Homo sapiens: one gene and its partners. The protein of the gene in region 3 interacts with the protein of the main gene of each other region in a pairwise test. Each region holds a gene or a part of one and is shown on either strand. Other genes may lie near its edges. The genes, in order: ZMYM6, DNAJC12 and TPH1.

The links.
Region 1: the proteins of TPH1 (region 3) and ZMYM6 interact in binary tests that used the Homo sapiens proteins (3 or more experiments, as listed by UniProt).
Region 2: the proteins of TPH1 (region 3) and DNAJC12 interact in binary tests that used the Homo sapiens proteins (3 or more experiments, as listed by UniProt).

Annotation. Positions count from the first base shown.
Region 1 is NC_000001.11:35,021,171-35,029,247, reverse strand, and holds part of ZMYM6 (zinc finger MYM-type protein 6), read left to right. Parts: intron 1-8,077. UniProt on the Homo sapiens protein: Plays a role in the regulation of cell morphology and cytoskeletal organization.
Region 2 is NC_000010.11:67,835,189-67,844,019, forward strand, and holds the start of DNAJC12 (dnaJ homolog subfamily C member 12), read right to left. Parts: upstream 3,001-8,831; 5' UTR 2,824-3,000; coding exon 2,746-2,823; intron 1-2,745. UniProt on the Homo sapiens protein: Probable co-chaperone that participates in the proper folding of biopterin-dependent aromatic amino acid hydroxylases, which include phenylalanine-4-hydroxylase (PAH), tyrosine 3-monooxygenase (TH) and peripheral and neuronal tryptophan hydroxylases (TPH1 and TPH2).
Region 3 is NC_000011.10:18,042,928-18,051,402, forward strand, and holds the start of TPH1 (tryptophan 5-hydroxylase 1), read right to left. Parts: upstream 3,343-8,475; 5' UTR 3,314-3,342; intron 1-3,313. UniProt on the Homo sapiens protein: Oxidizes L-tryptophan to 5-hydroxy-l-tryptophan in the rate-determining step of serotonin biosynthesis.

The DNA of each region.
Region 1 (8,077 bases), on a different chromosome or scaffold from region 3:
ACCTTGTTATAAATTTTGGTTTTTATCCTAAGAGCAGTAGATAGCCATTATAGGGTTTTTTGTTTTTGTTTTGAGATGGAGTTTTGCTGCAATGTTGTAATCTTGGTGGCTCACTGCAACTTTCACATCCCGGGTTCAAGTGATTCTCCTGCCTCAGCCTCCCCAGTAGCTGGGATTATAGGCGCCTGCCACCACGCCTGGCTAATTTTTTGTATTTTTAGTAGAGACGGGGTTTCACCATGTTGGCTAGGCTGGTTTCAAACTCCTGACCTCAGGTGATCCACCCACCTCAGCCTCCCAAAGTGCTAGGATTACAGGCGTGAGCCACCACACCTGGCCAATTGTAGGGTTTTAAGTGAGAAAGTAAGATGAAACAGATTTGTGTTTGGAAAGATCATTCTGGCTACCCCATAGGGACCCAGAATGGAGAGCACGGAAATCAATGTGGAGGCTGGGCACAGTGGCTCACGTCTGTAATCCTAGCACTTTGGGAGGCCAAGGCAGGCAGATCACGAGGTCAGGAGATCGAGACCATCCTGGCTAACACGGTGAAACCCCGTCTCTACAAAAAATACAAAAAATTAGCTGGGCGTGGTGGTGGGCGCCTGTAGTCCCAGCTACTTGGGAGGCTGAGGCAGGAGAATGGCGTGAACCCAGGAGGCGGAGCTTGCAGTGAGCCAAGATTGCGCCACTGCACTCTAGCCTGGGTGACAGAGTGAGACTCCGTCTCAAAAAAAAATAAAATAAAATCAATGGGAGAGATGAGTTAGTTGTTTTGGCAAGGAATTTTTCTTCTGGGACAGTTCTTTCGCTTTACACTCAAAGTTATTGACTTTATTGTATCAGCAAAGCAATTATATTTTAAAATAATAAAAAACAATTTTATTTTTCACACCATCTCACAGGCAGTATCATTCCTTTTTTTTTTTTGAGATGGAGTCTTGCTCTGTCACTCCCAGGCTGGAGTGCAGTGGCGCGATCTTGGCTCACTGCAACCTCCGCCTCCCAGGTTCAAGCGATTCTCCTGCCTCAGCCTCCTGAGTAGCTGGGATTACAGGTGTGCGCCACCACGCCTGGCTAATTTTTTATATTTTTGTTAGAGACTGGGTTTCGCCATGTTGGCCAGATTGGTCTCAAAACTCCTGACCTCAAGTGCTCTGCCCACCTCGGCTTCTCAAAGTGCTGGGATTATGGTTGTAAGCCACCATGCCCAGCCACAGGCAGTATCATAAGAAGACAGGGATGTCAGGTAGGTTTTGTTTCACTCATGAACTCTATGCCTTGCTAGAGTGCTGGGCTAAGAAGAGTTCTGAGGTAGTGTCTGTTAGATGTGGAGTGGGGGATGGTGGCATCCATGCTACTTGTTTTCCCTCCAGATGGTAAATTCTTACTCTTTCTCTGCCTAAAGTAACCATTTCTTTGCCAGGTTTTGTGGTTTTTAGCTTTTAAATATTTTTTGTATCTGACCCATGATGTTCTTCTATATTTCATTATTTCTCTCTCTCTTTTTTTTGTTTCCTTTTTTTGAGACAGGGTCTCACTTTGTTGCCCATACTGGAGTGCAGTGGTGTGAGTATGGCCACTGCACTCTAAACGATCCTCCCATCTCAGCCTCCCAGGTAGCTGACCACAAACATGCTCCACCACACCCAGCTAGTTTTTGTAGAGACGGGGTCTCCTTATGTTGCCCAGGCTGGTCCTGAACTCCTGACCTCAAGCAATCCTCCTGCCTTGGCCTCCCAAAGTGCTGGGATTACAGGCATGAGCCATCATGCCTGAACTATTTCATTATTTTTCATTTGGACTTTTATAATAGTTTCCTACCTATTCTCCTTCCTTCAGTCACATATCCCATCAAAACACTCTACAGTGATGCCATTGTACTGTATAGATCGAGTGATATTTCTCCCTTTAAAGACCCTGTTTCCTCCAGTGTGATGAAGCAAAGATCTTTCAATGTGACATCCAAACCATCCATGTTTAGGCCTTTGTTTCCCTCTCCAGTGTCATCATTCATTGTTTCCACCTTTTCAAATCTATGCTGCTGCCAGCTATTTGCAGTTCACTCAAAACTATCTTCTAAAACTCGGTTGCATTTTATTTCCCTGCCTTTGCACCTGCCATTTCTTGTGCCGGTGGAAGAAGAAATAAGCTAGGTAGGCTGGCAAAATTTTGTCCTCTTTTAAGATGAAGTTTCTCACTCACAAGTAGAATGAGCTGTTCTCTCTCTCTTTTTTTTAATTGTATAGTGCAATCACTTTTATTATGGTATCTACAGGTCAATGAATTTTGTCTTCATACTGATTATACTAATCTGGCCATCTCCTCCTCATCTTTCATTGACACACTAGACTGCAGTCTCTCTGAAGTCAGAAATTGGTCTTATTGACCTGAATCTCCAATTCCTAGCACAGGATTTGGCACAAAGTACATGTTCAATAATTGGAATAAAAGAGCCTCTTTCACATATAAGGAAGCTGAACCTGAAGGAATAAGTGACTTCACCAGTGTCTCATGGTAAAACTGGGATACAACAGTTTGTTGTTACTCCAGATGCAATATTTCTTTCATTATACCTTGCCTATACACTTAACAAATAATGTGCTTTAAGTTAATTCAATGTTCTTTCTGAATATAAAAATTGTGATAATGGAAATCTCCCTAGCAGCTTAGATTGTATATTTAAGAGGGTAGGAACTGCTCAGTTGTCTTTGGTTTATATTAATGTTTTCAGGTGAATAGGCTATATTTTTTCATGATTGAGGGTATAGACTATGATTGAAAAGCCAATTGAACAAATTGTGTATTATTTTCTATGTTGCATTGATGAATCTCCTTTGAATATTGGAAAATAAGAGATAAATAAAAATGTTTTTTATTTTCTGATTTTCTAAGAGTTTGTTCTGGATATTAAAATTATAGTTGAAGGCCAGGCGCGGTGGCTTGTGCCTGTAACCCCAGCAGTTTGGGAGGCTGAGGTGGGCAGATCCCTTGAGGTCAGGAGTTCAAGACCACCCTGGCCAACCTGGTGAAACCCTGTCTCTACTAAAAATACAACAATTAGCCGGGCGCGGTGGTGGGCGCCTGTCATCCCAGCTACTCAGGAGGCTGAGGCATGAGAATCACTTGAACCTGGGAGGCGGAGGTTGCAGTGAACTGAGATTGCGCCACTGCACTCCAATCTGGACGACAAAGGGAGACTCCATCTAAAAAAAAAAAGTTGCAGTTTAGTCCTTATATTCATATATGTTGAGTATTCATATTCATTCAGTGAGTTTTTATTCCTGCCTGCTGTAATCCATAATACTTGAACATTGTTGTGAGCAGTTTACATACCTTAATCCATTCGATGCTCACAACCCTCAGTTAAGTACTGTTTCTCTTCCCACTTTACCCATGAGGAAGCTGAGTCCTAGATAGTAACCCGTTAAAAGTCACATAATTAATAAATGGTTGAGTCAGGATTTGGACTCCAGCAGTCTGATTCAAGAGCCCAAACCCTTAACCAGGATGGTAAACTGTATTAGTTACTTTGTTTTCAGAAAGGCTACAGAGATGAAAAGATAGGACTTCTGCTCTCAAGGTAATTGATAGTGTAATGGAGAGAAAAGTTATGAGAATGAGAGAAGTAATATTTGTTGAGTGACTGTGCCTTGTGAGAAGCTATGCTAAGCATATCTTATGCATTCTCATTTAAACCTAATTGTCTTCAAACTTGTATGCTTTCTGCTGCTTTGTGCCACCTTTTTTTTTTCTTTCTTTTTTTTTTTTTTTTTTTTTTGGGATGGAGTCTTGCTTTGTAGCCCAGGCTGAAGTGCAGTGGCGCCATCTCGGTTCACTGCAACCTCCACCTCCTGGGTTCACGCAGTTCTCCTGCCTCAGCCTGCCGAGTAGCTGGGATTACAGGTGCCCACCACCACACCTGGCTAATTTTTGTATTTTTAATAGAGACGGGGTTTCACCATGTTGGCCGGCTGGTCTCGAACTCTACCTGCCTCGGCCTCCCAAAGTGCTGGGGTTACAGGCGTGAGCCACCGTGCCTGGCCTGTGCCACCTTTTGTGCAAATACAAAATCAAGGCCATGAGTGGTGGCTCATACCTGTAATCCCAGCACTTTGGGAGGCCGAGGTAGGTGGCTCACTTGAGGTCAGGAGTTCAAGACCAGCCTGGCCAACACGGTGAAACCACAACTCTACTAAAAATACAAAAAAATTAGCCAGGCTTCGTGGCACATGCCTGTGATCTCAGCTACTGGGGAGGCTGAGGCAGGAGAATCACTTGAACCCAGGAGGCGGAGGCTGCAGTGAACAGAGATTGCTCCACTGCACTCCAGCCTGGGCAACAGAGCAATATTCCATCTGAAAAAAAAAAAATACAAAATCACAGTCTTAGGTAAGTGCTTTAAAATTGTGTGAGGTGCATTGGGAGCATAGGGGAAGGAGCCCTAAATCTATATGGGAAGGAGAGGAAGGTTTCACATAGCAGGTAGCAATTGTATTATAAAAATTGACTAAGAGTTTCAGACAGAGAAAATATAGCAGAGAAAATAGCCACGTCATGGAGGGGTGAGAGAATGTGGTGTGTTTAATAGTTGAGTATCAACAATAAAGTGGGAAAAGATAATAGATTTAAAAATGGTTAGGTAGGATTGATCAAATTTAGAGATTGTTTATGGGTGTGAAGGTCAAAGAGGAGTCCAAGGATACTTACAGGTTTTGGGGTTTATGGTGATACCATTTACTGAGGGGTTAGAACAGGATTTTGGAGGAAGTACTAAGTGCAGTTTGAGGTCTGTTGTGTTTAAAGGGCTTGTGGGACATTCAAGTGGTAAACTGCACAAGGAGGCATTTGCACATAAAAATCTGGGATTTGAGATTAGAAAGTTATCTACTTGGAGATGTAGGGCTTCCAGATAAAATACAGGATGCCAGGTTAAATTTGACTATCAAATAAACAATGGTGATTTTTACTATAAGTGTATTGCTTGCAATACTTGGAACATAATTATTCTAAAATAGCACTATTTCAGCTATAGCTAAAAAGAAGGTTTCCTTTTCCTGTAAGATAGCAGGACAGTTTGCTGAGCAATTTGTAGGTAAGGTGGAGGGGGCTGAGGGATGTTGAGGGAGTTCTTAGTTACTTGTTTTTACCTGGTGCAATTGAAACATCAATGAGCAGGAAAGATGTGGAGTTGGGACTCGTGAGCTATGAAGGTTTAGAAAAATTACTTTGTGAGGTAAAAGAAACTGGTCAGGGAAATATAACAGAAATACTAGAAAAATTTTAGAAATTGAGTTGATAAGGCAAAGAAATTTTTATTGAATCTGGCCGGGCGCGGTGGCTCATGCCTATAATCCCAGCACTTTGGGAGGCCGAGACGGGCAGATCACGAGGTCAGGAGATCGAGACCATCCTGGCTAACACGGTGAAACCCCGTCTCTACTAAAAATACAAAAAAATTAGCCAGGCATGGTGGTGGGCGCCTGTAGTCCCAGCTACTCCGGAGGCTGAGGCAGGAGAATGTCGTGAACCTGGGAGGCGGAGCTTGTAGTGAGCCGAGATCGTCCACTGCATTCCAGCATGGGTGACAGAGCGAGATTCTGTCTCCAAAAAAAAAAAAAAAATTTTATTGAATCTTAAACACTCATTTTGGTAATTTGAAGATGTATATAATATTTTTAATGTCCTCTTCATTTTGCAAGTGTCAATAAATATTGTTATTTAAGTATAATGTTTAAGAACATGCACTTTGGATTGAATAGACTTAGATTCCTTCATTTAGCAAGTATTTATTAAATGCCAGTTATGAAACTAATAAATAAGTATGAGAACTAGCATTTTGGCCAGGTGCAGTGGCTCACGCCTGTACTCCCAGCACTCTGGGAGGCCAAGGCGGGCAGATCACCTGAGGTCAGGAGTTCGAGACCAGCCTGACCAACATGGAGAAACCCCGTCTCTACTAAAAATACAAAATTAGCCAGGCGTGGTGGCGCATGCCTGTAATCCCAGCTACTGGGGAGGCCGAGGGAGGAGAATCGATTGAACCCTGGAGGTGGAGGTTGTGGTGAGCTGAGATCCGCCATTGCACTCCAGCCTGGGCAACAAGAGCGAAACTCCATCTCAAAAGAAAAAAAAAAAGAACTAGCATTTTGTGTACATATCGTGCTTGCTTTTGACTAACTGTAAGATGTCATTCTGTATACCTTATTTATATTAAGTCATTTGCCCCCTCCCTCCCCGTTGGCCCTATGGGTTAGGTAATATTATCTTTATTTTACAGATAAAGAAATTGAAACTAAGAAAGATTAAATAGCTTGTTTAGGAGTCAAGATCATATCTGTTTCTGTCTGCTGTTAGAACCTATAGTCATTACTGTTATGTTGACTGTGTTGGGCGATTGGGTATACAGGGGTGAGAAAAACAGGTATTGTCCATAATGGATGTGATCTTTTTAGTCTAATGTGTGTGTAGGGGGAAGGATGAATGTTAAGCATTAATCAAATTATCCAAATAAGCAATGAAATGATTTACTATGGTAACTGCTGTGAGAGAAAGGAGATGGGAGAGACTACTGCAACAGGGGAACTTAATTTCAGTTGGACCAGAGTTTGAATTCATTGTAGTAATTACTTTATATTTTCACATCTATGACAGTGCTATCTTGGGTTTTAGAACAGAGAGACTGGCTGGGTGCGGTGGCTCATGCCTGTAATCCCAGCACTTTGGGAGGTGGAGGTGGGTGGGTCACCTGAGGTCAGGAGTTCAAGACCAGCCTGACCAACATGGTGAAACTCTGTCTCTACTAAAAATACAAAAATTAGCTGGGCATGGTGGTGAGTGCCTGTAATCCCAGCTACCCAGGAGGCTGAGGATCACTTGAACCCGGGAGGGAGAGGTTGCAGTGAGCCGAGATGGCACCATTGCACTCCAGCCTGGGCTACAGAGCGAGACTCCGTCTCAAAAAGAAAAAAAAAACAAAACAGAGAGACTGGGTTTGATTCCCATCTGTGCACGTAGTCTCTTTGTGACCTTGGGCAAGTTGCTGAACATCTCTTAGCTTCACTTTCCTCATCTATAAAGAAGGCATATCTTATAGAGAGCACCTCTTTGGGTGCTCATAATACATATCATGGGAAGTGGTGAATTAATGCAATGGTTCCTAGTTTTTGGCATTTAATAGTCTAAAGAAATTTCTAAAGTAACTTTGGAACTAACATAGCTACTCATTTATTTTGCTATGTGTGGAGAGATTAAAAATACAACTGCCATTTATTACCATCATTGATTCAGAAAAGTAAGACTTTTTAAAAAACTTCCTGTTTTGAAATATGTAAGGGTATTTTAACATTAAAAAAAAGGATGGTTGCAATTTCAGAATAAAGATAGGCATTTACATTTTAAAAATGTTTCATGATTACATTTTGTTTTAAAACGTTTTAAAGAATGTGGTAAGAATAAATAGGATTTTGTCTGTGATGATTTTATGTATAATGAGCAGATTGCATTGACACTCTTGTATCTTTTCTGCCATTAACAGAAAAGGCAGCTTGTAAATCTAAAATGATTGAAATCCAAACTCTAAATCATTCAGATTTAACTTTTCTTTTTTTCTTTTTCTTTTTTTTTTTGAGGCAGAGGCTCGCTCTGTTGCCCAGGCTGGAGTGCAGTGGCACAATCTTGGCTTACTGCAGCCTCCTCCTCCCGGGTTCAAGTGATTCTCCTGCCTCAGCCTCCTGGGTAGCTGGGACTATAGGTGTGAGCCACCACGCCCAGCCAGATTTAATTTCATTTATTGCTCCTTTTTGCCGGGTGCAGTGGCTCACACCTGTAATCCCAGCACTTTGGGAGGCCAAAGTGGGCGGATCACCTGAGGTCAGGAGTTCCAGACCAGCCTGGCTAACATAGCAAAACCCCTTCTCTACTGGAAAAAAACACAAAAATTCGCCGGGTGTGGTAGCGCAAGCCTGTATTCCCAGCTACTTGGGAGGCTGAGGCAGGAGAATCGCTTGAACCTGGGTGTTGGAGGTTGCAGTAAGCCAAGATCACGCCATTGCACTCCAGCCTGGGTGACAGAATG
Region 2 (8,831 bases), on a different chromosome or scaffold from region 3:
GTGATAAGTAAAATTAGAATATCAAATTGTTTTGAAATTATAACAGCTAAAATGCTTTCGGGCATGATGAGTTCTGGTTAATTTTAGAGCATCAAATGAAGGAATACCTGAAGTAAAGGCAATCTATCCAATACAAATCAAGTAAAGGAAATGTCATATTAGTCAAAAATGTCATAAAAATATTTTTGAAATGAGAAGCATACCTATAAAAAGAAGAGAAAAGCCAGGTGCGGTGGCTCACGTCTGTAATCCCAGTATTTTAGGAGGCCGAGGTAGGCAGATCACGAGGTCAAGAGATGAAGACCATCCTGGCCAACACGGTGAAACCCCGTCTCTACTAAAAATACAAAAATTAGCTAGGCATGGTGGCATGTGCCTGTAGTCCCAGCTACTCAGGAAGCTGAGGAAGGAGAATCACTTGAACCTGGGAGGCGGAGGTTGCAGTGACCTGAGATTGCACCACTGCACTCCAGCCCGGCAACAGAGTGAGACTCCATCTCAAAAAAACAAAAAAAAGAGAGAAAAAATGACACACACACACACACACACACACACACACATATATATAAAGAAGTGACAATATTATGACAAACATTTCATTAAAAATAAATAATTGTTATCTAGATATGATATGCCATTGACAGACCAGTAAAATACATCCAGTAAAAGGAATGTTGAGACAAGGAAGTATGACTCCACCTGGTAACCATATTTTGAATATTACACATTAACAACGAGATTATTTTCTGTAAGGCTGTCCAAAATGAATCCTCCTTCTATGTAGATTGAAAAGACAACAGCATAACTTCAAAAGACTGACTATGCAGCCATAAAAAAGAATGAGTTCATGTCCTTTGCAGGGACATGGATGAAGCTGGAAACCATCATTCTCAGCAAACTAACACAGGAACAGAAAACCAAACACCACATGTTCTCACTCATAAGTGGGAGATGAACAATGAGAGCACATGGACACAGGCAGGGGAACATCACACACCGGGGCCTGTCGGGGGGTGGGGGAGAAGGGGAGGGACAGCATTAGGACAAATACCTAATGTATGCGGGGCTTAAAACCTAGATGATGGGTTGATAGGTGCAGCAAACCACCCTGGCACATGTGTATCTATGTAACAAACCTGCACATTCTGCACAGGGATCCCAGAACTTAAAGTAAAATTGAAAAAAAAAAAAAAGGACTGACTAAATAGGTCACAAGATTATGGAGATATAATGACCCTTACTGTATAAGCTAGCATGTATTTTTTTAAATCCAAATTGTCAGCCTTATCAAGTTAAATTATATTCCTTTGATTTTAAATTATTCCTTCAAAAATTGTTTGATAATAGTATAATTTCAACTGTGAATAACACATGGTAAAAATGGTAATAAGCTTTCTCAATTGCTATAAGCAAATCACCACCAACATAAACAAGAATAACACATTCTTGAGAAGAAATATGCAACTAAAAGACCATTATAAGCTATTCTGGGGGCGGGGCAGTTTTTTTAATTTCAACGTGTCTAAGATAACTTCCTCAGCATGGCAAAAATAGAGATTTTAATCCTTTGTGTCCAGTAATGCATTCTATTCTTAAAACAAAACTAAGCACATTTTATTAATGAACTACTGCCTTTATGAAACAACAATAAATATAAAAACATTTTGCTTTACAATGTTAATTTTACTACTTAGATTTTAATAAAAATAAATAAAATAAAATACATTAATTATAAAACATAAATATATCCTAATAACATGATTTAATAATATATAATTTAATAATGAATATATTTTATATTAATCTCAACATTATTTGAAATATTGAAAAATTGGAAATAAAATATTTAACAATAAGAGAATAATTCAACTGTGGTAACACAGCAAAATAAAATATTTTGCAACCACTAAAAAGTGTACAAGGAAAGTTTAATAGCATGGAAAATTCCTTGTTATAATACGAATGGGTAAAAAGCAGGAATCAACAAGTACATATAATATCCTCCCAAACAGGTCTTTAAAGAATATACATAGAAAGAATAGTGGAGATTAATATGCCAAAATATTAATACTGTTATCCTTGGGAGAGAGAATTATAAATGATTTTTCCATAATTTAAAAAACCTCTACAACCTTTATAATTGTTTATTGAGAACTTTAAAAATTTTGTTTTCTTACAGATCCAGTGAACAGCTACAGAGTTTTCACATGTTTTGTTTCAGAAGCCACCCTTTCAAGAAGTAATTTCTGTCACACAATTTGAAATATTAACATAAAGGGATGCTTCTTTGTTTCTATTTTGACTGCTCACATAGGAGTACACATTTTAATAAAATATATTAAAATCCCTAATTTTATAAGAAATTTCATTTCACCTCAATTATGAGTCACCATAATAAAGGTATAGCTTATATATACTGTGAAACACTGCCATCAGAAATTACAATAAAATTTCAAATATTTATTTTTAATATACTATATTGTGAAACAGCATATGGCCATGTGCCAGAATACACATATTTAATCAGAAGCTTCCGTAAAATTCCCATAGGACACTATTCAAGTAAAATCCCAACATACATTTAAATTCTTAACTTTCTCTGAGCCAAAAGTGCTTTAAAACAACACAAGGTTAGGTTTGTAGGCAATGTGACTAAAAATTCAAAGTTAAAACCTTAAATAAAAACTTGAAATACTATTGTGAAAAAGAATACTGTTGTGATAAAAATATTATCCACTGTCTTACCGAAGATAGTTCATCACATCCCAGTAATGTGTAGTAATCTTCAGTATCTTCTGACCTGTAATTCAGTATTGCATCCATTTAGATGACTTAATCAGTCCTTCTTCCCTCGGAAACAAGAGGCACAGTGAGCTTCGAATTAACAGGAAGAAACTCTTTAAATCTGAATTAGAGCAGCATGTTCCACATAGCAAAAACTAGCTTTAAGACTGGCCACAGTCAATACACCAGATGTCATCCTAGACCTTTGTAAACTCTGCCTCTCATTGGCTGTTTACAGAGAAGAAAAGAACAGTCCACGTGTCTATTATTGCAGTGCTGCCTGGGATCTGTAGTTTGAGTTTATATAAGAGATGCATGTGAACCATTTGTCTTATGAGTTAATAAAGACTGTCTATTTTCAGAAACTTGCCACATTAGCCACTTCTCCATCTCCTATATATTTTTGTCTCTATCCTTTAAAAAAAAAAAAGAAAAAAAATGTGAAGCAATGTGGTAAAATCTTAGGATGTGTTAATAAGGATAATGGGAGCTTTTCTTAGTGTTTAAAATACTTAATTTTATTTTTTATTTGTTTATTTTCAGACAAGGTCTCACTCTGTTGCCCAGGCTGGAGTGCAGTGGTGCAGTCTCAGCTCACTGCAACCTCTGTCTCCCCAGCTCAAGCGATCCTCCCACCTCAGCCTCCCTAGTAGCTGGGACCACAGGCACATAGCACCATGTCCAGCTAATTTTTGGTTTTTGTTTTGTTATGTTTTAAGAGGAGGGGGTTTTGCCATGTTGCCCAGCCTGGTCTCGAACTCGTGAGCTCAAAGCGATCTGCCTGCTTCGGCCTCCCAACGTGCTGGGATTACAGGCATGATCCACAGCGCCCAGCCAATAACACAGTCTTGATTTTTATGGAGCTTACGCTCTGATGGAGGAAGACAGCTGAAAAACATGCAAAAAAAAAAAAAAAAAAAAAAAACACGATCATTTAAAATAGTGATTTGTAAGCCAGGCATGGTGGCCCACACCTGTAGTCCAGCTACTTGGGAGGCTGAGGCAGAAGAATCACTTGGACCCAGGAGGCAGAGGCTGTAGTGAGCCGAGATGGTGCCACTGCACTCCAGACTGCGCTACAGAGCAAGACTCCATCTCAAAAAATAAAAAAATAAAATAGTGATTTGTGCTTTAGAGAAAATAAAATAGGACAATGAGAAGAACTGTATGATAACTCGGGTCAGATGGCTGTGCTATTTCTCCTGGGTTGGTTCTCCAGACTCAGGAGTGTCTCTAGTCTGAGGTAGGTCCAGGCAATTTATGTTTCAGTTCATTTTGGCCCTAAGAAACACAGTTCAGGTCTGGGATTTAGAGAACAAGGTGAGTGGTCAGGGACACAACACTTTGACTGCCTTAACACTTTTTTTGTTTCATTTTTCAGAGAGACAGGGTCTCGCCATATTGCCCAGATTGGTCTTAAACCCCTGGACTCAAGTGATCCTCCCACTTTGGCCTCCCAAAGTGCTGCGATTACAGATGTGAGCCAACATGCCTGGCCCTTAACACTTTAAATTCCCCCACCTGAGGGGAAAAAATAGTTTTTCTTTTAGCCCACCTATATACATCTTTTTAAAGGTTTATTTCTGAAGAGAAGCAAGAAAAAGCACTGAAACACCATTTTTTACTAATCCTTCATTGTACATGCTGTCTTGCTAAAAGTTCTATATAGAATTTTAAGGCCAGGCACGGTGGCTCATGCCATAATCCCAGCACTGGGAGACCGAGGCGGGCGGATCACGAGGTCGGGGGTTCGAGACCAGCCTGACCAATGTGATGAAATCCTGTCTCTACTAAAAATACAAAAATTAGCCAAGCATGGTGGCACGCACCTGTAGTCCCAGCTACTCAGGATGCTGAGGCAGGAGAATTGCTTGAATCTGGGAGGCGGAGGTTGCAGCGAGCCGAGATCGTGCCACTGGACTCCAGCCTGGGTGACAGAGCCAGGGTCCATCTCAAAAAAAAAAAAAAAAATTAGATCACAATATCTTGATCTAAATCACTGATAAATGGCCTTTTAATGATGTGAAGTTGCCATGGTGGAAAGCAGTATGGTGGTTCCTCAAAAAATTAAACATAGAACTACCATGTGACCCCACAATTCCACTTCTGGGTAAATACACAAAAGAATTGAAAGCAGGAACTTGAAAAGATATTTATATACTCATGTTCATCAAGGCATTAGTCATAATAGCCAAAAAGTGGAGGCAATGCAAGTGTCCATCAACGGATGACTAAACAAATGGAATGTTAGGGCTGGGCATGGTGGCTCACACCTGTAATCCCAGAACTTTGGGAGGCCGAGGCAGGCAGATCACTTGAGGCCAGGAGTTCGAAACCAGCCTGGCCAACATGGCAAAACTTCATCTCTACTGAAAATACAAAAAAGTTAGCTGGGTGTGGTGGCACATGCCTGTAATTTCAGCTACTTGGGAGGCTGAGGCACGAGAATTGCTTGAACCCAGGAGGTGGAGGCTGCAATGAGCTGAGATCACACCACTGCACTCCAGCCTGGGTGACAGAGCACGACCTTGTCTAACACAAACAAACAAAAAAGTGTGGTATTGGCCAGTTGCAGTGGCTTATGCCTGTAATCCCAGCACTTTGAGAGACCAAGGCAGGAGGATTGTTTGAGCCCAGGAGTTCAAAACCAGCCTGCGCAACATAGTGAGACTCTGTCCTTATTTTTATATTAATAATATAATTTTTTTTTTGAGACAGAGTTTCACTCTTGTTGCCCAGGCTGGAGTGCAATGGTGTGATCTTGGCTCACCGCAACCTCCACCTGGGTTCAAGTGATTCTCCTGCCTCAGCCTCCTGAGTAGCTGGGATTACAGGCATGTGCCACCATGCCCGACTAATTTTGAATTTTTAGTAGAGATGGGGTTTCTCCATGTTGGTCAGGCTGGTTTCAAATTCCAGACTTCAGGTGATCCACCCGCCGTGGCCTCCCAAAGTGCTGGGATTAGAGGGGTGAGCCACTGTACCCGGCTTAAAAGTTTTTAAAGTGTGTGGTATCTTCCCCCTGGCTCTCTTACTCCTGTTCTCACCATGTAACATGTCTACTCCCACTTCACCTTCTGCCATAAGTAAAAGCTCCCTGAAGCCTACCCAGAAGCTGAACGGATGCTGGCTCCATGCTTCCACATTCTGCAGAACTGTGAGCCAATTAAACGTCTTTTCAGTATAAATTACCAAGTCTTAGGTATTCCTTCATAGCAATGCAAGAATGGCCTGACACAAAAAATTGGTACCAAAGAGTGGGGCCTTGCTATAAAGATACCTGACAAAGTGGGAGCAGCTTTGAAACTGGGTAATGGGCAGAGGCTGGAAGACTTTGGAGGGCTCACAAGAAGACAGGAAGATGAGGGAAAGTTTGGAACTCCTGCAAGACTGGTTAAATGGTTGTGACCAAAATGCTGACGGTGATATGGACAGTGAAGTCCAGGCTAATGAGGTCTCAGATGGAAATGAGGAACTTATTGAGAACTGGAATAAAGGTCACTCTTGTTATGCCTTACCAAGGAACAAAGCTATATGGTATTCATGCCCTAGGAATCTGTGGAAGTTTGAACTTAAGAGTGATGACTTAGGGTATCTGGCAGAAGAAATTTCTAGGCAGCAAAGTGTTCAAGAAGTGACCTGGCTGCTTCTAACAGCCTATCCTCAGATGCAGAAGCAAAGAAATGACTTAAAGTTGGAACTTATATTTAAAGGGAAAGCAGAATGTAAAAGTTTGGAAAATTTGCAACCTAGCCATGTGGTAGAAAACAAAAACCCATTTTCAGGGCAAGAATCTAAGCAGACTGCAGAGCAACCACTTGCTAAAGAGATTTGCATAAATGAAAGGGAGCCAGGTCAGAGGCTGATAGACAAGACAATGAGAAAAAAACCTCAAAGGCATTTCAGAGATCTAAGAGGCAGCCCCTCTCATCACAGGCCTAGAGGCCCAGGAGAAAAGAATGATTTAGGGGGCCAGGCTCAGGGTGCTGCTGCCCTGTACCACTATGGGAGGCTGCTTCCTGCATCCAGCCACTTCAGCCCCAGCCTCAGCTCAAAGGGGCCCAGGTACAGCTCAGGCCACAGCTCAGAAGGGTGCAGGCTGTAAGCCTTGGGTGGCTTCCATGTGGTGTTAAGCCTGCAGGTGTTCAGAATGCAAGAGTGAAGGAGGTTTGGCAGCTTCCTCCTAGATTTCAGAGAATATATAAGAAAGCCTGGGTACCCAAGAAGAAGCCTACCACAGGGACAGAGCCCTCACCAAGAGCCTCTACTAGGGCAGTGCAGAGGGGAAATGGGAGGTTGGAACTTTAACATAGTTTGGAAAGTCTCCCTGCCTGAATCTCATGTTGAATTGTAATCCTCAGTATTGGAGGTAAGGCCTGGTGGGAAGTGATCAGATCATGGGACTGGATTTCTCATGAATGGTTGAGCACCATCCTCTTGATGCTGTCCTCACAAAAATGAGTGACTTCTCTGAGATCTGGCTGTTCAAAAGTGTGTATCACTTCACTCTCTGTCTCTCTTGCTCCTGCTCCCACCATAGGAGATGCCTGCTCCCCCTTCACCTTCTGCTGTGATTGCAAGCTTCCTGAGGTATCCCCAAAAGCAGATGCCTGTGTTATGCTCCCTGTGCAGCCTGCAGAACCATAAGCCAATTAAATCTCTTTTCTTTATAAATTACCCAGTCCCAGGTATGTCTTTTCTTTTCTTTTCTTTTTTTTGAGACAGAGTCTCACTCTGTCGCCCATGCTGGAGTGCAATGGCACAATGTCAGCTCACTGCAACCTCTGCCTCCTGGGTTCGAGCAATTCTCTGCCTCAGCCTCCTGAGTAGCTGGGATTACAGGCGCCTGCCACCACACCTGGCTAATTTTTTGTATTTTTTAGTAGAGATGGGATTTCACCATCTTGGCCAGGCTGGTCTTGAACTCCTGACCTCGTGATCCACCCACCTTGGCCTCCCAAAGTGCTGGACTACAGGCATGAGCCACTGCACCCGGACTTAGGTATTTCTTTTTTCTTTTTTTTTTTTTTTGTGATGGAGTCTTGCTCTGTCACCCAGACTGGAGTGCGACGGCGCAGTCTTGGCTCACTGCAACCTCCACCCCCCGGGTTCAAGCGATTCTTCTGCCTCAGCCTCTCAAGTAGCTGGGACTACAGGCACAAGCAACCATGCCCAGCTAATTTTTGTATTTTTAGTAGGGACAAGGTTTCACCATACTGACCAGTCTGGTTTCAAACTCCTGACCTTGTGATCCGCCTGCCTCAGCCTCCCAAAGTGCTGGGATTACAGACATGAGCCACTGCACCTGGCCAGGTATTTCTTTATAAAAATGTGGGAATGGCCTAATACAAACTCCCACACAGAGTCCCCACTGGGGCACTGCCTAGTGAAGCTGTGGGAATAGGGCCCCCACCTTCCCGGCCCAGAGTGGTAGATCCACTGGCAGCTCACACCCTGCACCTGGAAAAGTCACAGAGTCACAGGCACTCAACTCCAACCCAGGAGAGCAGCCTGCAAAGCCACAAGGGCAGGGCTGCCCAAGGGATTGGGAGCCCACCCCTCACAGCAGTGTGCCAAGGACGTGAGACATGGAGTCAAGAATTATTTTGGATCTTTAAGATTTAATGAATGTCCTGCTGGGTTTCAGGCTTGCTTGGGACTTGTTGCTCCTTTCTTTTTTTTCCTTTTTTTTTTTTGAGGTGGAGTCTTGCTCTGTTGCCCAGACTGAAGTACAGTGGCACAATCTCGGCTCGCTGCAACCTGCACCTCCCAGGTTCAAGCTATTCCCCTGCCTCATCCTCCCTGAGTAGCTGGGATTACAGGCATGTGCCATCACACCCGGCTAATTTTTGTATTTTTAGTAGAGACGGGGTTTCACCATGTTGGCCAGGCTGGTTTCCAACTCCTGACGTCAGGTGATCCACCCTCCTCAGCCTCCCAAGGTGCTGGGATTACAAGCATGAGCCACAGCACCCGGCATGTTGCTCCTTTCTTTTAGCTGATTTCTTCCTTTTGGAAAGGGAATGTTTGCCCAATGCCTGTATCTC
Region 3 (8,475 bases):
ATTAATTTATTATAAAACCCCTAAAGTGTATTAAATTCCAAATCTCAAGAAAATAATTCAGCAGTTTTTTTGCAAACAAATAGACAAAGACCCCAAAGTAAAATGTACTGAGTTACCCTATAGTTACTGAGTCCTCATGTTTCCTGATACCATCACCATGACATGCAGAAGGAAGAGGATTCTGCAAATATAAGCTATTTCCTGGCCAACCACTAGCTTCATCATGTAAATCAGCTTTAAGAACTGGGAGCAAGGATCAGAGAACAGTAAAGAAAAGTTACCACTGATTTTTTCCAGTCAGTGGTAACACTAACAGAATTCTAGATCTCCTGATAATTTGTCTTTCAACAACCTCTTGGAGCTTGGAATAAAACTCTTCATATAAAACTATATGAGGCCAGCTGCTGCGGCTCATGCCTGTAATCCCAGCACATTGGAAAGCCAAAGTGGGTGGATCACTTGAGGTCAGGAGTTGAAGACCAGCCTGGCCAACATGGTGAAACCCCGTCTCTACTAAAAATACAAAAATTAGCCTGGCATGATGACACATGCATGTAATCCCAGCTACTCGGGAGGCTGAGGCATGAAAATCGTTTGAACTCAGGAGGCAGAGGTTGCAGGGAGCAAGATCGTGTCGCTGCACTCTGGCAGGGCAGTAGAGTGAGACTCCGTCTCAAAAAACAAAAACAAAAACAAACAAACAACAACAACAACAAAAACTATTATGAAGAGCCTGGGTAACATAGTGAGATGCTGTATGAACAACAACAACAAAAAAAATTGTTTAAGTTAGCTGGGCATAGTGGCTTTCACCTGCAGTCCCAGCTACTAGGGAGGCTGAGGCAGGAGGCTTGCTTGAGCTCAGGAGTTCTAGGCTGCAGTGATCCATGATCGCGCCACTGCAGTCCAGCCTGGGTGACAGAGTGAAACCCTGTCTCTTAAAAAAAAAAAAAAGAGAATTTCCTTCAATTTTCAAAACTGGTCCCTAAGCTTTCCTGGAAGTTGCTATTGTGAGAAGGTGCTAACAGTCATGGCTCCATCCCTTTAGGGTTCATAATTATTTTCTTTACCTGATTCTGGAATGGATCAAGTTTTGTGCCAACATCTCCTTAGTTGGTGTGGGGAGAGGAGGGTGAAGGATACATTAATTGAAATTTATGATATGCAAGGCATTTATATTATTTTGATGTATTTAAAGACATACATTATTATATTAAGATGTAAGTGGCTCACACCTGTAATTCCCAGCACTTTAGGAGGCCGAGGCGGGCGAATCATGAGGTCAAGAGAGCGAGACCATCCTGGCCAACATGGTGAAACCCCGTCTCTACTAAAAATACAAAAATTGGCTGGGTGTGGTGGCGGGCGCCTGTAGTCCCAGCTACTTGGGAGGCTGAGGTAGGAGAATGGCTTGAACCTGGGAGGCGGAGGTTGCAGTGAGCCAGGATCACGCCACTGCACTCCAGCCCAGGTGACAGAGCAAGACTGCGTCTCAAAAAAAAAGATGTGGAAACACTCCTCCTTGTTTAAGTCATGGTAAAAATGAAGGTTCTCAAAAGGAACTTTTGCTAAGAAACTAGAAAACTAGAAGAAAATTCTCACCCTCTTTTTTGTTCCCCCCCACCCCAAAATAATCTTACAGGACATAGATCTTTGATCGTTACTAAAACTTGGCCATAACTTTGCTTGGTTGACAGAGCTTATGAGGCATCAGTTATTTTTTCCTCCAGTTAACCCCAAACCGCTTTCAGAACCTCAATATTTTGCCTTGTTACTTTTTCCTTTCCCCTTTCAACCTACCCACCTCCTCCTACTCTTTCAGGAAAACAAAACAAAACAAAACAAAACAAAAAAACACAATACTAACCTGGTAAGATAAAATAGGTCACACTTGTTTGAATCAGTGTCTCATCAATACATAAGCATTTTATTTTTAAAGCAACTCTCTGATCAGCTAATACCAACTGGTACCCTTTTCTCATGAAAGGTAGAGTCATTTTCCTACTGCGTCTCCTGGCCTAAGGATGCACTGTGTAGGACATACCACTGGAAATAAGGAAAAAATACCAAGAAGACACTCAGAAGATCAACAGACCCGACCCTTGGGAGAGGTCAAGGCGTATACAATGACCAACTCTTTTCTTCCCTTAGTTTAATCAGTAAAACAAGTGTAATTTATATTTACCGGATCTAGGAAGCACAAAGCACTACTGAATTAGTCTTTTGAAAGCATGGATATTGTTTGAAGACAGAACTAAAAACTGCAAGGAGGATTCTTTCAGAGGGAGGGAATCCTCTACGGAGTCTTGATTTTCTTTTCTAAATAAGGAGTGGGAATGAGGATGAAAGTGTAGATGAAATACAAAAGAAAACACTATCCATGAAAAACAGTATTCTAGGAAATAAAGGCACTGGCAGAGAAAATGGAAATAGAAGACACATCCCTATCTGGAGATAATCTAATAATACATGTACAAATGGACCTCAGTGATAACATATGTAAACCACAGATTATAACTTTACAGAAACATTGATATTAGAATTCCACCCCCCCCTTTTTTTTTTAACTAACAGGCACAAACTTTTCCTGGGTTAGCAAGTTCAACTCTAGTCTTTTTCCTGCTAAGTCAAGTAGAGTGGGACATCAATGAGAAGTTCATTTTAAACCTCTGAAAATCAAACGCCAAAGGCAAGGTTGAGTTCACACGGACTCTTAACTGACTCTAAACCGCAAGGACCTAGTCCTCTTTGTCAATTGCGACCTTGCAAAAAGCTCTCAGTCGTCTGTTGGGATGGTGGTGATGATGGTAAGTGCGATGCTGAGAAGCTTTGCATCTGAGACTCCTTCTTCTTCGGGAGGCTGTTTAAGGGAAGCTTCCCTTCATGGGAGGAGAAGAAAAAAAGAGACATTGCCCTTTGATGGAGAGGAAGGGAAGGAAGAAAAATCTTACTGTTTCTGCCAACATAGAGGAGTCACACAGACTTGGGTTGGACTCTGGACCCCACTTTCCTCATCTGGGGACTCAAGAAATATCTACCAGAGTTTGTCATGAAGGTGAAATCTCATGATGGCTAAAGAGTCTGTTCCTGGCACACAGGAGGCACTCAGAAAGTGTCTTTTCTCCCCAAACAGCGTGGGAGGAAAGAATAGTAAGCGTTTATAGGGGTACAACTCCGACCTCCCAAATCTGACTCCGCAAGACCACCAATTTACCTCCCGGGAGGGTGACTCTGCCCAGCCCCGCGCCTGCCAAGCGCCGCCAAAGCCTCGACGGCGGTCCCCGGTGCCCGCGGGAAGGGCCGCCTCACTCACCTCGGGCGCCAGTAGGTGCAGGCTGGGTCGGCCGGCGGCCCCGCGCTGCCTGTCTCTTATAGAAGCGGGCGTCGGAGCAGCTGGGCAGCGGCCAATGAGAAGGGAGGGCCGGCGGGTGTGGGGCGTGGGCAGTCGCGTCCGCCTGCTCCCAGAGACTTGCACGCCTCAATCTCTGCGTGTATCTGACTGGTGTTTTAATTAAGTGAATGTTAGGCCGTCCTTAACCACACAAGTCTGACTAACACTGAACAATCCAGAGTTGGACATTCTCTCCAAACCAAGATAACGCCTATTATCGACACAATGACCTGCTATAGGACTGCAGTGCTTCTCGCCTGTTGGAGACCAAAGCAAGAATCCCCCCACCTCCCACACCTCTCTGTGCTTCTGGGCTATTTAATAGCCCAGTCCTGACTTATTATTCTCTTGGTGCTTTCCCCCATTCCTTGAGGCAGAGCAACAGTTAGTTGAACTTTTTAGAAGAGAAGTGTTCAGTGCCCTTCTAATTAAAAAAAAATTTTAAGCTGCAAGCAGAGAAGCATTCTATATTAGCAAAAAATCATATTACGTGCTATTGTGAACAACAGGACATAGAGGCAAAAAATTTGGAATAGGTATTTACTGGTTGAGTAGTCAGTCGATTAGCTCCTTATCCCAAAGGACTGTACACATAACGAAGTATATTATAGGACATTCTTTCCTCCAATGTTTGAAAAGTAAGATTTATTGATGTATAATTAACATACAGTAATATTCACCCTGTGAGGTGTACAATTCTGAGTTTTGACAAACATGTATAGTTGTGTAACCACCAAACGATCAAAATATAGAACATTTCTATCACTGCGAGAAATTTCCCTTGTCTAAAGTCTCTCACCTCACACCCAGCCCCTGGCAGCCACTGATCTGATTTCTGTCTCCACAGTTTTGCCTTCTCTGGAATGTCACAGAAATGAAATCATGAAATATGTACAGATTTTTGGCTCCTGGCACTTAACATAATGCTTTTGAGTTTCATGCAGGTATTAGTGATTTGTTCCTTTTCTTTCCTGTTTTCTTTTTTGCTGAGTATGGATGTACTTTAAAGCTCAGGATCTTTACAGCTTTTCTATGCATTTTTCTTTTATCTGTATAATGCTTCTATGAGGTACATATTATTTGTATTTTACAGATACGGAAATTGAAGCACAGGGGTGGCTCTAAGACGTTATTCTGGCACAGGCTAGTAAGTACCATCAATAATCAAGCAAAAGTGTCTGAGTTTAAATCCAGTGCTCTTACTTCAATGCCATAAAAAATACTGGTCAGGGAGAGACCTTTCAGAACCAAGCTGAGGTCAAAGATGTCTTTCCTAAACTGAAAGCCTTTCCTTGTAGATCTGGAACACGATAAGGATGCCCAATTTCACCACTATTATTCAACATAGTACTGGAAGTTCTAGCTAGAGCAATCAGACAAGAGAAGAAATAAAGGGCATCCAAACTGGAAAGGAAGAAGTCAAATTATCCTTGTTTGCAGATGATATGATCCTATATTTGGAAAAACCTAAAGACTCCACCAAAAAACTATTTGAACTGATTAAATAATTCACTAATGTTGCAGGATACAAAATCAACATACAAAAATCAATAGCGTTTCTGTATGCCAATGGTGAACAGTATGAAAAAGAAATTAATCCCATTTACAATAGCCACAAATAAAATAAGTACCTAGGAATTAACCAAAGGAGTGAAAGATCTCTACAATGAAAACTATAAAATACTCATGAAAGAAATTAAAGAGGACACCAAAAGAACAGAAGGCTATTCCAAGTTCATGGATCGGAAGAATCCTTATTGTTCAAATGTCCATGCTACCCAAAGCAATCTACAGATTCAAGGCAATCCCTATCAAAATACCAAAGACTTTCCTTACAGAAATAGAAAAAACAACCCTAAAATTTATATGGAATCACAAAAGACCCAGAACAGCCAAAGCTATCCTGAGCAAAAAGCACAAAACTGGAGGAATCACATTACCTGACTTCAAATTATACTGCAGAGCTACAGTAACCAAAACAGCATGGTTCTGGCATAAAAACAGACACATAGACCAATGGAACAAAATAGAGAACCCAGAAACGGATCCACACACCTACAGTGAACTCATTATTGACAAAGTTGCCAAGAACATACAATGGGGAAAGGACAGTCTCTCCAATAAATGCTGCTGGGAAAACTGGATATCCATCAGAAGAATGAAACTAGACCCCTATCTCTCACCATATATAAAAATCAAATCAAAATGGATTAAAGACTCAAATCTAAGACCTCATACTATGAAACCACTGCAAGAAAACATTGGGGAAACACTCCAGGACATCAGTCTACTCAAAAATGTCTTGAGTGATACCCCACAAGCACAGGCAACCAAAGGAAAAATGATTGCATGGGATCACATCAAGTTAAAAAACTTCTGTACAGCAAAGGAAACAATTGACAAAGAGAAGAGACAACTCACAGAATGGGAGAAAATATTTGCAAAGTACCCATCTGACAAGGGATTAATAACCAGAATATATAAGGAGTTCAAACAGCTCTATAGGAAAAAATTTAATAATCCAATTAAAAATGGTCAAAAGATTTGAATAGACATTTCTCCAAAGAAGACATACAAATGGCAAATAGACATATGAAAAGGTGCTCAACATCCTTGGTCATCAGATAAATGCAAATCAAAACTACAATAACATGTCATCTCACCCTGGTCAGGCAATAACAAATACTAGAGAGGATGTGGAGAAAAGGGAACCCTTGTACACTGTTGGTGGGAATGTATAATAAATTAGTACGACCACTATGAAGAACAGTTTGGACGTGCCTCAAAAAACTGAAAATAGAGCTACCATATGATCCAGCACTCCCACTGCTGGGTATATACCCAAAGGAAGGAAATCAGCGTATTGAAGAGATATCTGCACTCTCATGTTTGTTGCAGCACTGTTCACAATAGTCAAGATTTGAAAACAACCTGTGTTCATCAACAGACGAATGGTTAAAGAAAATGTGGTACTTACACACAATGGAGTACCATTCAGCCATAAAAAAGAATGAGATTCTGTCATTTGCAACAACATGGATGGAAATGGAGATCATTATGTTAAGTGAAATAAGCCAGGCACAGAGACAAACATCGCATGTTCTCACTTATTTGTAGGATCTAAAAATCAGAACAACTAAACTCATGGAGACAGAGAATAGAAGGATGGTTACCAGAGGCTGGGAAGGGTAGTGGGAGGTACAGGGAATGGGGGGTTGTGGGGGATGGCTAATGGGGACCAAAAAACAGAAAAAATGAAAAAGGCTTAGTATTTGATAGAACAACAGGAGGACTATAGTCAATAATAATTTAATTACACATTTAAAAATAACTAAAAGAATATAATAGGATTGTTTGTAACACAAAGAATAAATGCTTGAGGGAATGGATACCCAATTTTCAATGATGTGTTTATTACACATTGCATGCCTCTACCAAAATATCTCATGTATCCCATAAGTACATACACCTACTACATGCCCACAAAAATTATAAATAAAAATAAATTTAAAAATAGAAAAAAGATGTCTTTCCTAAAGTTGGGACTACAGGAGGGCTTAAACCACCCCTGATGAAGAAGAGAGATGGCACCAACTCATTTAATGAGCACATCCACAAGGAGGTCAAGAGAATAGGTTGGATGCTGGCCCTGAGGTGGAAAGGCCTTAGTAGTTGACACTTACAAATCAAGATGTCATCAGGGCTGGGTACCTGCTGCAGGCTTCAGGGGAGAATCTGTCCCCTCGCTTTTTCCAGCTTCTAGAGGTCACTGCATTCTTTGGTTCATGACCCCTTTGTCCATCTTCAAAGCAAGCAATGTGGCATCTTGTAATCTAAGTCTTTGTCTCCTTTCAGTGACAAAGACCCTGTGCTTCCATTCTGCCTACCCAGATAATCTGGGATGATCCCCCATCTCAAAACCATTCATCACATTTGCAAAATCTCTTCTCATGTTAGATAACATAGTCATGGTTTCTAGACATTAGGACATGGACAATTTGGGGATGCCATTATTTTGCCTACCACAGAGAGGCACTGAAACTAGACACTTTGGGCAGTATTTAGATGGGAAATGGTCTTTCTCCTTAAGTGTGTCCTATCATTTTAATCTGTGGAACCTATGGTGAAGGAGTTCTCTGACCTGGAGATGGGGCTTTTGAGAAACTGAAAGTGCTCACTGCACTGATGGTAAAGGACACCTCGCTGCACTCCCCAGATCTCCAGCAGAACATATTTGAGAGGGGACACATTCCAACCTCTCAGTTTCTCATTTGGTGGAACCTTTGGATTGATCCTCTTCCATCTTCATTTAGGAGTTCCTCTTTCTCTTCCCTCCAGGTATTCAGGGTTCCTCTGGCTGGGTGAGGATTTGGGCCCTCTTCTCTTTCCAGTCTATACCCTCTTCCTCGTCAATTGCACCTCCTTTCCTGTACCCTTGTTATGCGAACAACTCCAAAATGTGTGTTTCAAACTCAGATCTCCCTTCTGAACTCTAGACCTTTATATCCAATAATTTACCTTGTATACATGATACATTGGCATCTTCACATGTTCTAAAGTAAACTTAGGAAAAGAATAGGTGTTGGTGAGAACTGGGAGAAATTGGATCCTATCTTGCTGGTCGGAAGATAAAATGGCTCAGCCACTGTGGGAAAAATTTTGTTGGTTCCTCAAAAAGTTAAACACAGAATTAACATATGACCTGGCACTTCCACTCCTAGGTATGCACACAAAAGACTGAAAAGAGGAACTTGAACAAATCCTTGTATGAGAATGTTCACAGCAGCACTATCCACAGCAGCCAAAAGATGGAAATAATCCAAATGTCCATCAACGGATAAGTGAGGTAAACAATCTGTGGTATACACATACAATTGAATAGTATTCTTCCTTATAAAAATAATGAAACATTGATACATGCTGCAACATGGATGGACCTGGAAAACATTACATAACGTGAAAGAAGCCAGAAATAAAGGTTGCATGTCCTATGATTCCATTTATATGAAATATTCAGAATAGGTAAATCTATAGAAACAGAATACAATGCAGTGGTTGCCCAAGGCAGGGTGTGAGGGAGTGGG